Linked DNA regions of Homo sapiens: region 2 is linked to region 1. The links come from fine-mapping of genetic effects on gene expression. A gene starts in region 1. The other region holds a variant in brackets. All regions are shown on one strand. Distances are from middle to middle.

Evidence for each region.
Region 2: its variant is fine-mapped to the expression of RGS14 in minor salivary gland (GTEx, PIP above 0.99).

Annotation. Positions count from the first base shown.
Region 1 is chr5:177,354,641-177,362,736 of GRCh38, reverse strand. RGS14 (regulator of G protein signaling 14) reads right to left here and starts at 4,813. Exons shown (of 15, transcript NM_006480.5): 1 at 4,668-4,813. The coding sequence starts at 4,712. RefSeq lists enhancers at 688-837, 4,261-4,761, 4,890-4,939 and a silencer at 4,560-4,789.
Region 2 is chr5:178,204,844-178,212,939 of GRCh38, reverse strand. It overlaps HNRNPAB (heterogeneous nuclear ribonucleoprotein A/B), which reads right to left. Exons shown (of 8, transcript NM_031266.3): 2 at 7,894-8,096; 3 at 6,930-7,098; 4 at 6,050-6,208; 5 at 5,715-5,846; 6 at 3,493-3,610; 7 at 2,668-2,808; 8 at 1,777-2,387. The coding sequence ends at 2,317. It overlaps PHYKPL (5-phosphohydroxy-L-lysine phospho-lyase), which reads left to right. Exons shown (of 13, transcript NM_153373.4): 12 at 970-1,050; 13 at 4,025-4,469. The coding sequence ends at 1,019. Among named protein-coding and RNA genes, the nearest start is that of HNRNPAB, 4.4 kb to the right of the region's middle. RefSeq lists silencers at 7,434-7,843, 7,874-7,983, 8,004-8,096. The variant G/T (reference allele first, on the strand shown) is at 3,465.

The DNA.
Region 1 (8,096 bases):
GCTAAAACCCTACCTGGGCCTGACTAATGAACCCCCTTCAGCCTCACCCATTTTCCTCCCCCTCACCTCCACCCTACACTTCACCGAACTTTTCTATTTTCCCCACACCCCTGCTTCCGGCTTTGCCATTGCCAGTGCCTGGGTATCTGCTCCTGCTCTTCGCTTGGAATTGCTCCCCGATCTCTGCCCGTTGACATTAGTCGTCCCCAAACACCAGGCCCCTTGAATGCCCCTTCCCACCACGTGCTTATCCACCCATGTCCCGGCCTCTCTCCCTGCCAGTCTGGTCACCCCTGGAGTGCTGGCCTGGTTGGTGGGAGGGGTCAGATCTGAACTCCCTCCTCAAGAAGCACCGTCTTTGCCTCGTGCTCCCAAGCAGCCATCAGGACCCTGGCCTTGGCACCCCTTCACTAGGGACTCTCAGCCCCTGAATGCCACCTGTAGCTCTCCATCCTGAGCCTCTCTTGCCCTGACAGTTGTTGATAGCATAGCTGGAGCTGAAATTGAGTAGGGACAGAAATCTGGAGATGGGTGGGAGTGGGGGTGGAATCCAATTCCAGCTCTGCTATTCGGGAACAAGTAACTTCTCTGAGCTTCAGTTTTCCCTGGGTAGCATGGGGCTCAGCACTCCCAATTTCCTGAGGCTGCTGTGAAGCTTGAATGAGGCCCCATGAGTGAAAGCACCAGGCATGCCACAATCAGAGCAGCACCCCACAGCGGAGTGAGGTGCAGGTGTGCAGGGGCCCTGCAGGGGCTCTGGCCTGCCCTGGCTGCCACTGCAGGGCCTGGGGAAGTTGTGTTGAGCAGGGCTGGCCTCCCCTGCTTCAGCCTGCTTGAGAAGAAGTGGTGAGTGAATGGAGAAAAAGGGGAAGAAAGGGCAAGGAAGGGTGTGGTGGCCAGTGACACACGGACCCAGGCTTGGACCTCGGCCGGTCATATTTTTTTCTTAGGAATTTGGTCCTGGGGGAGCTGCTGGCACCTGAAAATGCTAAGGTGAGAGTAAGGCCCCAATTTCCTGAGCTTTGACTGTGTGGCAGGCACCCTCTGGCAGCACACATTCATGTCCTCCCTCCATCTTTACGGGTATCTTGTGTGGCAGGTATTATTACCCCCATTTTACAGATGAGGAAACTGAGGCCCAAAGAAGCCATGCAGCTGAGATGTGGCAGAACTGAGATTAGAACTCAAGTTTGCCTGATTCTGGAGCCTGAGGCCTCCCCACCCTCTACCCAAGCTGACTCCCTTTGTGGACCAAGGAAGCTTGGAGGCCCAGGGCCTCAGCCCTTGGGGCACAGGTGGGCAAGTCTAATCTGGCATGACCTGCTCAGGGGCTCCTCTTGAACTGTGCCCTCTAGAGGGATCAGACCTTGAAGGAGGGCCAATTTTCTGAGCATCTTCTATGCTGGGCACCCTCTACCATCCTCTTGAGGATTTCATCCTAGCTTGAGGGGCTGCAAGACCCTGTCTGGAGATGTCCACACAGAATCTGGGTGTCTGGTCCCTTCAACTTGAACCAGCCTGTGGAGATGACCCCTGGCCTTGCCCCTGTATAAGGCCACCCTGAACTCGAGTGCCCTGAGCTGGACGCGAGGGACAAAGAGAGAGCTGCATGGGCTTTGCCTTGCAGGTCTTCCTGCCAGGAGGGGAAGACTAACTAGGCCCTCTGACAGGACAGGACAGGCTAACTGCCCCTCCAGGCTTAACTCTCAGCCTCCCCTAGGGCCCTGTCCCTGTGTTTGCCCACAGCCAGGCCTATGCCGTGCCCTCCCTCCTCCAGCTTGCAGACCCTTTAGGGACCGTCTCCTACAACACGGTGCATGGAGCTAGTGGAGAGTCTTGCTCTGTCGCCAGGCTGGAGTGCAGTAGCACGAACTCGGCTCACTGCAACCTCTGCCTCCCAGGTTCAAGCAATTCTCCTGCCTTAGCCTCCCAAGTAGCTGGGACTACAGGCACATACCACCACGCCCAGCTAATTTTTTGTATCTTTAGTAGAGAAGGGGTTTCACCATATTGGCCAGGATGGTCTCGATCTCTTGGCCTCATGATCTGCCCGCCTCGGCCTCCTAAAGTGCTGGGATTAGAGGCGTGAGCAACTGTGCCTGCCTCCTCTCTCCCTCCTTCCCTCCCTCCCTCCCTTCCTTCCATCTTTTTTTTTTTTTTTTTTTTTTTTAATATAGGATCTTGCTCTTTCACCCAGACTGCAGTGCAGTCTGAGTGTGATCACAGCTCACTGCAGCCTTTACCTCCTGGGGTCAAACGATCCTCCCACCTCAGTTTCCCAGTAGCTGGGACTACAGGTGCATACCACCATGCCCAGCTAATTAAAAAGAAGATGGGTCCTCACTATGTTGCCCAGGCTGGTCTCAAACTCCTGGGCTCAAGCGATCCTCCTGCATTGGCCTTCCAAAGTGCTGGGATTCCAGGCTTGAGCCACTGCCTGGTATTTTCACCTGTGTCTTTTGTGCCTTGCCAGACTAGGGGGCAGGGACTAGGGCTGATGGGCCTGGGTCGGGAGTGTCTAGGATAGGGGCAGTGGCAGCACCAAGCAGGCACTAAGGAGGGGTTGTTGAATGAATGAGTGAATAAGTACATGAACAAATGAAAAGGTAAAGAGGCTGTGTGAAGACATCCCTAGGAAGGGGGCTGGGAGATGTCTCCAAGTGACAGGTTTCCTTGCAACTGCCTGACAAGCTGAATGGCAGAGAGGCAAGGCTGACAACTGAAGCTTCCACAGCAGGGAATGATGGTGGTGAGAGGAGAGGTAGGGGAGGACTGGGGCCAGGCAGTTCTGGGGGTTCAGATGCTGACGCTCTACTCTCTGGCTGACCTCGGCACAGCATTTACTTCTCTGAGCCTCCCTTGGGAGGTAACTCATGGAGGGACCAGACATACCTGTCCCCCAGGCGCCCCTCCATCCACATCCGCACCTCAGATCCCAGTGCCTGTCTGGCCCTCCCTGCCCTAGCTGTGCAGGGCCACGGGAAGCTACTCAGTGACCAGCAGGCAGCCAATCTGTGACCCTCGGGATTCTAAGAGGTGGCACAGAGAGTTTGGAACAGGCCCAGGAAGGGCAAAGATAAACCTGTGTGTGACAGTTCTGAGAGGAGCCGGGGCGTCTGTGGGCTTGATGGAACTGGGGGCAGACCTTGGGGCACCCTCCCTGCTCTAGGTGACTTTTGAGTAGAGAAGTCACAGGCTGACACAGAAGGGGCAGGGGCTGGGTCTGTCTCTGGGCCCCCTCTGCTGCCCTGTAGTTCTAGGCACTGTCCCAGAAGCATCAATCCAGTTGCCCTCCCAGGGTGGGCCTGGGGTTAGCCTCCTTGGCTTCCTGGCCCGGTCGCCTAGGCAAGGACGAGCGAAGTGTCATGCCTGTGACATGGGAATGCAAGGGAGGTGGGTTTTCTTTTTGCACTTTCGTTGTGGGGTCGGTACTGCAGACAGTGAGATGGGGGGCTGAGCTGGCTTTGAAGGGTGGCCTCTCTCCCAGCCGGCCAGCCCGGGGCTGGGCAGGAAAGAGATGCTGGAAGAAGAAGAGGTAGAGGCAGGTTTTGGGAACTAAGGGGCAGGAGTGGTGATGGGGCTGCCTCAGCTTCTTGGTGAGGCAGGAGATCTTTGAATTGGGGCTGAAAATGTAGGGGGCACTGGGCTGACAATTATGCAGCCCCCACAATGGGTCAAAGGCCTCATATGCATTATTTCACTCTATCATCTCAACAAGCCTTGAAATTCATTCCAACCTCCTCATTTTAGGGATGAGGAAACTGAGAGCTGGCGAGGACCCTCCCTCCAGTAAGAGAGAATAGAACCAGGACTGGAACCCAGGTCTCTATAGAGCCACTGGCTTTGGCCCGTGATACTAGGCTGGGGCCTGGTGGTGGGCCAGGACACTGGCCTTCCTGAGGTTGTTAAGAGGGACTCTTCCAAGTGAGGGGGGAACCCTAGGGAGAGAAGGGAGGCCCAGCACAGCTTGCCCCATCTGCTGAATGAATGAGAAGAGCCAGATCCTCTGAGGGCAGCTCTGATCTGGGGCTAAGCAGCCAGGGAGAGGGTTAAGGGGTGGGGCAGCTGCAGCCAGGGGGATCTTAGTGCTCAGCCCTTCCTGGAAGCTCAGGAATAGAACAGGCAGAAGCTGCATCAACCTAGTCTGACCCTGCTGCCCCATCCCGGGCTGCCCAAACAATGCTAGTTCTGGCAGGAAGCCTCTGGAGTAGCTCCGGCTGGAGGACACCGACCCAGCAAGAGCTGCCACTAACATGACCTTGGGCACCTGGAGCAGGGGGTGAGGAGGGGAGGACTCAGGCTGAGCGGGATGTAGGGGCTTGAGCCACTGTGGGGATGGGCAGGGGGCAAGGAGCACATCGAGTGTCCCTGAGACCCTGGGATGCAGCCCCAGATGCAGCAGGTGAGGGAGTGGTGGGGGCTGGACCAGAAGCCTGTGCCCGCTCTGGCCTCACTGCCAGGGTTGTACCAGGCTCCCGGCTGGGCCATCTGGAAGGGTCTAGGGGTGAGAGCACCAGGTCCTACCACCTGCTGCTGTCTGTACCCAACTTCTCTCGCCTGCTGGCAGCCCGTGGGCTCTTGCCTGGCCCTGCCGGGTGTGCCTCCTGGGCTCCACCCTGGGTGTGCCCACCCCCTCCTCGTGGCCCTGGCCCGGAGCCCACACTCACCATGCGCCCGTTGGGGACGCCCAGGTGCTTGGGCTTCCCTGGCATGCCGCTGCCGATCAGGGGTCCCCGCCGCGGGGGCTGCCCACCATGGGGACTGTGGGCAGCGCCGGCCAGAGCTTGCACGGTGGCGGGCAGGCAGTGGAGAGAGCCTGACTCGGCTCCTGCGGGCCCTCACATCCTGAAACACCGCTCACTACCTCTTTTCTCTGCCACAGGAAGTGTCTCTATAGAAACCAAACCACAGAAAGAAGCAAGGTCTAAGAGAGCGAACGCCTCTTCCTACACACACACGCGCACACACACACACGTTCACGCACACACACGCCACCAACACACTCCTGGCAGCATCCCGCACGGGCACCAACACAAGGCAGAGGCTTCCGTGTGCCCAGCAAGGAGCCCAGCCTGGTCTGGCCAGGACCAGGGAGCTCTAAGTTCATGCCTGGGCTCACAGCACACGAGTAAACATACCTAGGCACCTTTGTCCACCCTGGGGGCGTTCCTGTGGACATGCACACACGTGCACTGGGACCTGTGTATCCACACGTGTACTTTACTCGGCACACACTTACCTCATACCTACTGTGTGCCAGACAAACATGTGCTCAGTACCCCTCTCCCCGGCAGCTGCACATATGCAGGGTACCTCTAGCCCCAGACACCTACAGGCTCCTTCCATGCATGTGGCCAGGTGTGCAGACAGATGGATAACTTGCCCGCATGGCTGTGCACACACAGACATTCAGGTATGCGTGTCATAAACACATGGGCTCTCCCTTACAAGGGGGACTTGGGTGTATAGTCATGTGCATGCACAGTCCCCTGAAGAGGTGCATGTGACAGGCACACCTGAACATAGGACATATGTATTCCGACACTCCAGTGACATATGTGTAAGCAGATATGATGCACACGCTCACCTACCTAGGTAGGGGACTGGATCACCTATATCTGTGGCCAAAGACTTGAGCGCATTCATACTCACTCAGAAATCCTGCCTTAGTCAACTCAGGCTGCTATAGCAAAAATACCATAGACCAGGTGGGTTAAACAACAAATAAGTATTTCTCACACTTCTGGAGGCTGAGATGTCCAAGGGCAAGCCGCTGGCACATCTGGTATCTAGAGAGGGCCCTCTTCCTGGTTTGCAGACAGCTGTCTTTTTGCCATGCCCTCACGATAGCAAGTGGAGATAAAGGAAGCCAGCTCCCTCCTGTCTCTTTTTATAAGGGCACTAATTCCTAATCCCACCCTAAGGGGTTCTCTTTCATGACCCAATTACCTCTCAAAGGCCCTGTCTCCAAATAACACCTTGCAGGTTAGTGTTTCAACGTATGAATTTTGGGGGATATAAACTTAATTTGATAGCATGTAGTGTTGGCTGAAGGGTGGGCATCCTGCCCTCGGCCCTGACCTGGCCCCAGATGAACTCCAGTTTTAAAAATTTTAGCTAGGGTCCTTGGTTTGCCTCTTTCTCACACATGCGTGTCCCCACTGCAAGGACTTATATTTTCTTCTAAGCGTGGGCTCACTAAGACCCCTCAACTTGCCCACCATTCTGATTTGAGCTCCTCTTTCTCTCTTTTTCTTTCTTTTCTTTTCTTTACTTTTTTTTTTTTTTTTTTGAGACAGAGTCCTGCTCTGTTACTCACCCAGGCTGGAGTGTAGTGGCAGGATCTAGGCTCACTGCAGCCCTGACCTCCTGGGCTCAAGCAATCCTCCCACCTCAGCCTTCCAAGTAGCTGGGACCACAGGTGCATGTCAACGTGACTGTGTAATTTTTTTTTTTGTAGAGATGTCTCCTATGTTGCCCAGACTGGTCTCAAACTCCTGGGCTCAAGCAATCCACCCACCTTAGCCTCCCAAAGTGCTGGGATTACAAGTGTGAGCCATCGTGTCCAGCCTCAGCTAGTCTTTCTGCAGGGACAAGGTGATAGCCACTTCTCCATATTCTACCCTCTGCCCCACTGCCCCTTCTAGGGCTGTGACCTGAACTCTTCAGTGGCAGAAACTGAATAGCTCTTCACCACAAATTCATGTCCTTTTTTCCTGGGCACGTGGCTAACTTTACTTTCCCAGGTTCCCTTGCAGTCAGATGTGGACATGTGACCACTTCTTGCCAATTGAAAATGTGTGGGATGACATGTGTCATTTTTGAGCCAAGGCTTTGAAGAAGTAAGTGTGTGCCCTGCACCCTCCCTCTTTCTCCTTCAGCTGGATGGATAGAGAAGATGAGGAGGCCCAGGGGATTGTGGAACCACAAGAAGGAAAAAGCAGGGTCTGTGTATCAGTGCCTGAAGGCAAGCCACCCATCAACCTGGAAACCAGCTTCAGACCATTATGTAAGTGGGAAGTAAAATTTTTTGAGCCTCCTGACAGATGCACAAACCTTGTAAAAATAGTTAAAAAAAAAAGAAACATCAAAAAAATTTTCAGGTCATTATATACATTAGGGCCTATTTGTTATAGCAGCTAGCACTGCCCTAGTTAACACACTTCTTCTCCCAGCACTGCCTCACCTCTCTCCAGACACCTTGCTTCAGGCCACACAGACAGAGAGATTCAGTCAGACTTGATGTGTGAAAGGGGTTACGGTGGAGGTTGCTTTTGGGCCTGGACCATTGCCAATGGTGGTCTTAATAAGGTGTGTGACTGTTTCAATGTGCCTGTGGGGGTTGTAGGGTGTGTGATATGGGTGAAGACTTCCTGTCTGCTGTGCCATGGATCTGGGCCATTTCCTAGGTGGCTTTACAGTCCTAGTCCTCACAACCACTTTGTGAATGGTGCTTATTATTACCATTTCACAGATCAGGAAACTGAGGCTCAGAGAGAAGTGAGTTGCCCAAGGCTATACATCCTCTTAGAGATCTGCTAAGCTGTGAGTGTGCTTGGGGTGCCTGGAACTGGGCTTTGGCCACCACAGATGCCCACAGCTCATCTTCTTCCTGCCAAAGGACAGTCACAGTCTCTGCCTGGGACTCCCTTTGAAGTTCATACTCTCCTGCAGAGACACCTCTTCCCTTCTCTCCACCATGGATGCCAGTTCTAGCTCTGACCACATCTTCACCACAGCTAGCCCTGGCTGTTCCCATCTCTTAGCCCTTATCTAGTCTTCTCCATGCCATGAGAGTGGTGGAGTACCTCCACCCACAAAGCACCATCCTCGACTTCTCCCTTCCTGGCTGCCCACAGGGCATCAGTTCCTGATTTAGTCTCTGGCTGGGACTTCAGATCCTTCTTCTCTGTGAAGACCTCCTTGGCTTAGGCCTCACCCTCTCTCCCCCGATCATGATGAATCCAGTCTCCCTATTATCCCCGCTCCAATCTCTTCTCCTCACCATAGCTAGAGGAATCCACATTGGTCACTCCCATGCTTAGAAATATCCCATTGAGTTCTGGGAAAAGGCCATGTTCCTTACTTGGGAATTG
Region 2 (8,096 bases), 850 kb before region 1:
AGAACTCAGCCTGAAGCCAGCAACTAGAGCCTCCTAGCATGGAACAGGGAGGGGACAAGAGTCCAAGAGCAGAGGCACATGTCCTCTGGACAGGGCAGGGAGCAAGAGAGGGTCTTTCATGGCCCAATCTGCTCCTATTCCTGCCTGTACCTAAGAGAGCTTCCTGGGCTGTCAGGAGGTGGAAGGTGAGCCACCACCCAGCCTGCCTGAGCAGGCATCAGATGTATGCAGGACAAAGCAGTACTGGGCCTGAGAAACAGGCCATAAGAACTACAGTGGGAGTTGAGACCCCATTACCGCCAGCCTAGGATGTAGAGATGGCAGGAGTTTCATTCTGTACATGAGACAGGTCACACAAGGCTGCTGGGTGGCTGAAAGATTGGTACCACTGAGGACTGACGGAACTCAAAATGAAAACTCTACCCCACATTCCCCATCACCTAGGATGGTCGTGGTCAACCCAGGGTTCCCCCTAAATCCACTTACAAGGAAATCTCATGGCTGTGTTGCCATTTACAGCTCAGTGAGACCCTAAATAGGCACAGTTGCATCTCACAGTAGAGATCACAACTGCCAGCCAAGCAACCTGTGCCCTCCTACCTCTGGGTGATCACTGCTACCCACAGGTATGCTTAATCCCAGGGCTCTGGAGCTGGGGGAGGCCCATCCCTGCTAGACACAAATTGGAAGTGGTAGGGATATGATGAATAGGAGTGTGTTTGTGGAGAGCAAAGGCTGGCCACAGAACAGGCTTAGGGATCCTGGACAGAGCCTACAAATCTCAGGAGAACTGAGGGCTGGCTTTGTTTTTCAGGAAACTGCTGCCACCCCTTTGGGGAATGGGACATGGGTGTGGATAGCCAGAGGGCCCAATCTCTAAACTGTCCTCCAGTTTGGACACTGAAGTCAACAGGGCATCTTCAGCAGAGAAAGGTGACTGAGTCGGCATTGCTTTGTGGTCTTTTTCAGACATGGAAGAGAAGGTGAGAAGTTGTGAAACGCTGAGGCTCCAGCCCTAAGCCAGCCCTGCTCTGCCTAAGTGTACTCCAGGTGAGTGGGCCTTGCTTCTTACTCTTGAAGATGCACAGCGGGTTCCTTACCATCAGCAGCAAGCAGCCTCGGCAAGCTGAGCCTTTTTTTAAGACTTTTTTTTGTTCTGACTGATGCTCCTTCCCAAAGGTTAGTTTCTTCAACACTGGAAATTCTCCAATGCTTAGCTTGCACTTGATGGCAGGAACAGCTATATCCTCCCTTGAAACCTATGGGGCTGTATCCACGTGGAACCCCAACCCACCCTTGCCTCTTGTAACCACCTAGTCTTATGCCCTAAATACCAGACCTGGAGTTGGGCTCCAATCCAGCCAATAAACATCCCCTGCCAGAGCAGGCTTTTCTTCACCAGCCAGGAGGAGCACTATTGTGCCCCAATTCAGACGGCCCTGGCACTGCCCTAGTGTGTAAAGAATCCCATTTTTTCATTCATCAGCCAAGAAGGTTGGTGTTCCAAGGTGTCCCAGGAGGGGACATGCCTGCTGGGGATGTAAGCCCTCATCACTGCCCCATCCTCACTCCCCATAGGCCTCTCATTCCTTTCTTTGAAGGGGGGCTCAGCCCTAGGCAGGGCAGTCCTTAAAGGATACCCCCACAACTGGGCCTGCAGCTGGAAGAGCCTGCTGCAGGAGAAAGCCCCAAGTCCAGGGCACCTGGCACCCCCCCCCCGCCTCCCTCGACCCTGAGCAAGAGGTCTCACACAGCATATCCCACACTCACCCAGGCTTGGGGGTTTTTAAATTTTATTTCAAAAGCTTGGATAGCTTCAATATCCAGGTTGTGGCAAAATCAGGACACGTGTAAAATACCTTACAATACATTAGATTCCCAAAAGGTACCAAAAAGTACAGTAAAATTAACACTTCCGTTACAGGAAATGTATGACGCAAATAATATAAAATTAAAAGGTGAAAAAAAGGTGACACTGGTTTCCTAAGATACAATTTACTCTTTACAACCAGGGTCCACAGGTCCAGGCTGCAGAGCGGCAGCAGGAAGCAGAGCCTCCCACCTGCTTCTGGGGGACCTGGTAATAAAAATCAGCCCATGATGGCGCTATGGCCTCTCAGACACCACACGCTGCCTAAACACCTAGAGCTCTGGAAATAGTCAACAGGAGAGTGATTTCCATGGGGGAAATTTTAAATAAGATGCACATGGGACAGGCAATAGAAAGTTTGCCAAGTTAAATTTGGTACATAATTGTGTTCACTCCATATCCAAACAAAGCATGTGTGCGATCAGTTGGTCGCTCCTGCTGCCGCCTCAGTATGGCTTGTAGTTATTCTGATGGCCACCACGTCGCTGGCTCTTGCCGTAGTTTGTACTACCCTGACCTAGGGACGAGAACAACCATAGCAGCTACTATTTACAAGCATTTGCCCTGTGCCACGCGCTTGATATGCATCTTCCCAGGACCCTCACCAGCCGTGACAGCAGAGACTGCCTTCCTCATGTTATTAAGACCCCGAAGTCTAAGGCTCAAAATCAAGTAGCTCCCATGGCTGAGCCAGGCCTGTCTGACTCCAAAGCCCCTGCTGCCAGTGGCTCCTACACTGTCCTGCCTCCCCTGGGGACGAGGGGTGAGCGGATGGGGCCTCCCTCTCTCCTACTTACTGTAGTCGTAGCCGGGGCCGTAGCCGTAATAGCCATAGGGCGAGTAGTCGTAGCCGCCATAGCCAGGCCCGTAGCCCTGCTGGTAGCCGTAGCCCTGGTTCCAGTAGTTGCCGTAGCCCTGATTCCAACTCTGACTCTGACCTGTGGGGGGAGCAGGGCACAGGGGCCCGTGGACCATTTAGCATACGCAGGAGCTAGGATGGAGGAAATCCTGCCCTTTGGGGTGGCAGGGTTACTGTGGCAACTCAGGCAGAAGCCAAGGGGCTGCTGTTCTGGTGTATAAGGGCCCTGGGCCCAACCCTGCATCTGAGAGACCCAAGCAGAGGATCAGAGACCAGGATGCTAACTTTACTTGGGGCAAACAAGGCAGCTCACTCACTCAGTCACTCTCTGATCACTCCCACTCTCCTTGGCAGCTTAGCCTTTAAAAAGATGCAGTTCAGGCTTTGGAGTCAGAGGGGCCTGGGATGGAAGGGGATAAATGCCTGGCACAGCTCTGCCCTACCCACCCTTCTGCCTACCTGCTCACAGGTGTACCAGACTCAGGACATCCACAAAGCCAAGACACCCATCACATCCCCTCCCCCAGAGTGTAACACAAATGCTCTCTCTGCCCTGGGCACCCAAGCCATTCCAAGGGGCAGCAGCAGGCAACAGCCTCAAGCATACAGCCCTGACCCAGAGCCGTTCCTATTCCTGTTCGTCCCCAACCTCACACAATCTGCCCACCCCTGCTGCACAGCACCAGAGGGAGCCCCAAGACAGGCTTGGAAGGCTCCATGTAGGCAGGGAAACAG[G/T]ACCTATCTTCATCCACGTTCCACTCACCTCCACCTCCACCACCACCTCCGCTGCCTCGGTTCCCTCGGTTGCGGTTTCCACGGCCCCCAGAGCCATACTGCTGCTGCTGATAGACTTCTTTGGGCTGGGCCACCTTGATCTCACACTAAAAGTCAAGAGGACAGTGGTCAGGCCAGTAGGACAAACTCAGGGCAGTGACTGCCCAAACACCTTCACTGCGACAAACATCAAATGGTGGATCAGGTCCATTTGCTGAGAAACAAAATATGCTAGTATGGGAGGCCACCTTTGGGCTAAAGCTCATGGAATCCCAACTAAAACCAAAGGCCTTCCAGCAGAGAACCCTTCCGACAGAATGCACTTGAGATGGGCATCTCAGCCCCAGAGCAACTCCGTATCTAATGGAGGCAGGCAACTGGGCCAACTGCAGCCCAGGGGAGCAGAGGACAGGCTGGGACCAGGCACCACACCTTGGTCCTGCTGGGCTAGAGGGTCAGACAAGACTTCTCAGATGAGGGGCCTTAGACAATGAGGTTTTAACATCTTTTTCTCTTTACAGAAGAAACTCATCTCATCCAAATACACGCTATTGAGAAGGCGAGCCTGACCTCCCTCTTACAGATAAAGTCAGCTTTCAGAGGCTCAGGGTGGGGGGGCCTGCCCGAGGCCATAATGCTACCCACCCCCTCCTCCTAACCACTGGTCTGTTGGAATAACCCAGATGTCTGCATCCCCTCAAGTCAGTCAATTTCCTTTCTGTCCACTGGGGGTGGAATGGGGTAGGGTGGGATACTTTAAAGTGCTCCTGCTTAAATAAATTAGACCAGACCAGTGTATTTCTAAAGAAAATCCTGACATGCACACCCATTAAAAATAGTACATTTTACAGTGTCCCAGTCATACTTTTAATTGGCAAATTAAAATAATGCAATCTGATATATTCTATCCTACTAAATTAAAAATACTGAATATAACCAACTAAATATACTTACTCCTAAGACTCACTACCAGTAGTTTCACTTAAACTCTGCCTTAGAGGCTCTTCCCACCCATTTCCCATTATGGCACATAGAGAAAAAGGCCTCTATCACTGTCCACTGGAGTAATAACCACTGCTTCCCCTAACTGCCTCAAAGACTGTCATTTTATAGAAAATTTAAGACTATCCTAATCCACTCTTTCCAAACTCCCAGCCAGGATAGAGACTTCCAGGAGTTCCACCTGTCCCACCTTATCTGGCTGCCAACTCCTGCTCAGAAACAGAACCTGCCACACCCTGCCACTGCAGGCCGCACCCTCAACTCCCAACTGCCAACTTGAAGCCTGAACTACCCTTTCCCTGACCAGAGTTCAGGAGGGGAAGAGCTACACCTCCCTGCACATGAATCCACTCATTTGAAAGCACAACTGACCCTGGATTTAAGCTGGCCAGGACCCTGGGAGATCTTTGGAAGGATTTTTGCCTGGGTTTAGGGTTAACTTAAAGAGGTGCCCAGAAGACCAAGTGAGGCAGTTCATGCCTGTAATCCCAACACTTTACAAGGCCAAGGCAGAGGATGGCTTGAGCCCAGGCAACATGGTGAGACCAGGCTTTAAAAAAACATATGAGCCAGGCATGGTGGTACATGCCTGTGGTCCCAGCTACTCGAGAGGCTGAGATGGGAGGATCCGGTCCGCCCATGAGGTCAAGGTTGCAGTGAGCCATGATTGTGTTACCGCACCCCAGCCTGGACAACAAAGCAAGACTCTGTCTCAAAGCAAAAAAAAAAAAAAAAAAAAAAAAGTGCTCAAAGTGGATGGAAGTGGACAAAGACTTGGTTGTAGAAGGAGGTAGAAAGGCTCTGGAATAAGAAAAACTTCACCACAGAGGAGAATCAGTGAGTTGCAGAAGTTCTAGGATCTTCTGAGACCTTAAACTGCAGGCTTCATACCCCTGGACTCAAGAATCTAGAACTGTCACCTCTAGCTTTAAGTGAGGAGCTAAAGAGGCTACTCAACCTGCTCTATTCACAGAGGCCACCTTCTCCTACCTCCCTCACATCCTGTGTTGTTTATTGGCAGTCCTCCCAGCCTGAGAAGTCTTTCAAGGATTGGAACACTGCCCCAATCAGGGCAGCATACGCTTCAGAGAAATAGTAAAGTCTGACCAACCTGGAGAGCTCCTGCATGAGGCCCAACCCCTAACCCATCCCTCTAAGGGCCAGCTCTCCAGCAGCACAGGAGGCCAAGCAGAGCTGGGAACACCTTACCTTGCTTCCACTGACAGTATGGAACTTTTTCTCCAGAACCTTCTTCACGGGTTCTTCTTCTTTAAAGGTGATAAACACAAAACCTCGTCTTTTGTTCAACTTTGGATCCATTGGCAATTCAATGGCCTCAATCTGCAAAAAGCATAGGCAAACTCAGGCCCAATACCTCCCTACCCCAGAGCATATAGGGGACTCACAGGAGAAAAGACCCCATTGAAGACAGAGGGTGAAAAATAAGCCCTGCCTGGGAGGGTCTAGCCAGCCAAGGATACCAAGGACCAGAAAGAAGGCAGCCTTAGGGGCAGCTGATGGGCTATTCCCAGAGCCACACTCACCTCCCCAAACTCGCCAAAGTACTCCCTGATCTTTTCCTCAGTGGCTTCAGGATTCAGACCCCCAACGAAGATTTTCTTCACCGGGTCCTTCTTCATAGCCATGGCCTTTTTAGGGTCAATGACACGGCCATCCAGCCTGTGCTCCTTCTGGTCTAGGACCTGTTCCAACAGAAAGGGGTCAGGCTGACTCAGCAGCACGAGCCAGACAAGGCCCTTCTCTCTAAGCCATAAAGACACCAGTACAGATACAAACATGTGTTTCACCCCCTCCAAATTCTACCCCAGCTTAACCTCCCAACCCAATTTTCATCAAACCTCAAGTACAGCTGGTTTACCTCGACACCTAGAAAACAGTCCTCACACTTAAGCCTTTGATCATGCTCTTCCTGCCCAAGCAGTCCCAGCGTGAGGCCCATCTCCAGAAGCGAAGCAGCAGGGACTCGGAGCATAGGCTGAAGATGGGCCACAGGGGAAGGAATCCTCCCTCCACTCCCTACTAGCTGTGACCTCTTCTACTTACATTTCTGAGCCTTAGGGTTTTGGTTTTTGTCCTGTAAAATGGGGCTAAAAGCCTATCATACCAATCATGGACTCTCTTGTAATCCTCCCAGATGTTTAGCGCCGTACCCAGAATAGGCACATAAAAGGTAATGAATGTCAACTGTCATCTTCCCGAACCACTCCAGCACATTCTCTCACTCCCAGCTTAATCTGTATTTTCATCCCCTCAAAAACCGGAACATAACCTCCGGCTTTGGGTTTTGCCCAAAGCACTTAAATCACATGCAGACCACACAAACTAGTCATGCTTTAAGAAAGGTGTCCTCTTAGAATTCAAATCGTTTCCACTGAGACTGCTGAAATCCAGTACCCAGCTTACCTTCTCCACACTGGCTGCATCTTTGAACAGGATAAACCCAAACCCTCTTGACCGTCCAGTGTTGGGATCCATTTTTATTGTACAGTCAACGACCTCTCCAAATTTAGTAAAATAGTCTTTTAAATCTTTTTTGCTAGTATCCCAGCTCAGGCCACCAACGAACATTTTTCTGAAATGGTAGGGTGAGACACACGGCAACAAGTCTTGTAAGCAAGCTGTGATTTTGGAAAGGACTGGCCCTGGCAAAGTTCTCACGAAGTCTACAGCTACCCTTAGAGTCTGCAAGGAGCACCTTAGAAAGATGTTAAATCTCCACTACCCTCCAAATTGAACTCAACCAGGACCCTAACGAGGCTTAACAAGGCTCTGCAGCCCCAGCCTGTGAGAAGCAAAGAAGGGACCACCTCACCAGGGGTATGGGACCTAACCACTCATAACTGGAAATTCATGTGTTCTACAACCATGTAGCAAAGGGCCAGCGTCTCCACCAACTCCTGAGAACTCGTTTCAAGGAACTCGATGTTTCCGGGGACCAAGCCCGCCCAGGGTTCAGACCGTGACTCCGCCCCCGGGAGAGGCGGAGGAGGGAGGTCCGGGCCCCGGCTCGCGCCAACTCCGCCCACGCAGCCGCCGGCGCGGCCCAAGACGCCGCCGGGCCCCGGGTCCGAGCGCTTTCCCTCTTCCGGGCCATCCGCCCGCCCCTGCGCCGGCTCCGGCCCTGGCCCTGGCCCTGGCAGCGCGCGAGCGGCCCCGGGGCGGCGCCAAAGTCGACCCAACAAACTCCCGCAAACTCCAGCGCGAGTGGCAGCGCCAGGCCCGGCCCGCGAACGCAGCGGCGACAGTCCGCGGGCCGCACCAGCCCCGACCCGGGCCAGGCCGCCGCCCCTCCCCCCGCCGCGTGGCGCCAACAAAAGGCGGCCCCGGAACAAAGGCGGCGCCCCCGTCCGCCCGCGGCCGCACCTACCCCGCGTCCTCCTCGTTCTTGCTGGCGTTGATCTGGTCGCCCTCGGCGCCGTTCTGATTCCCGCTCGGGGGCGCCGCGGTCGCGCCTCCAGCCCCCGCCGCGGCGCCCGTGCCAGCCCCGGCCGGCGACTCGCCTTCGGGGACGGCCTCATGTCCGTTCTCGGTGGCGCCCGTCGTCTCCATGGGCTGCTCCTCGCCCGCTTC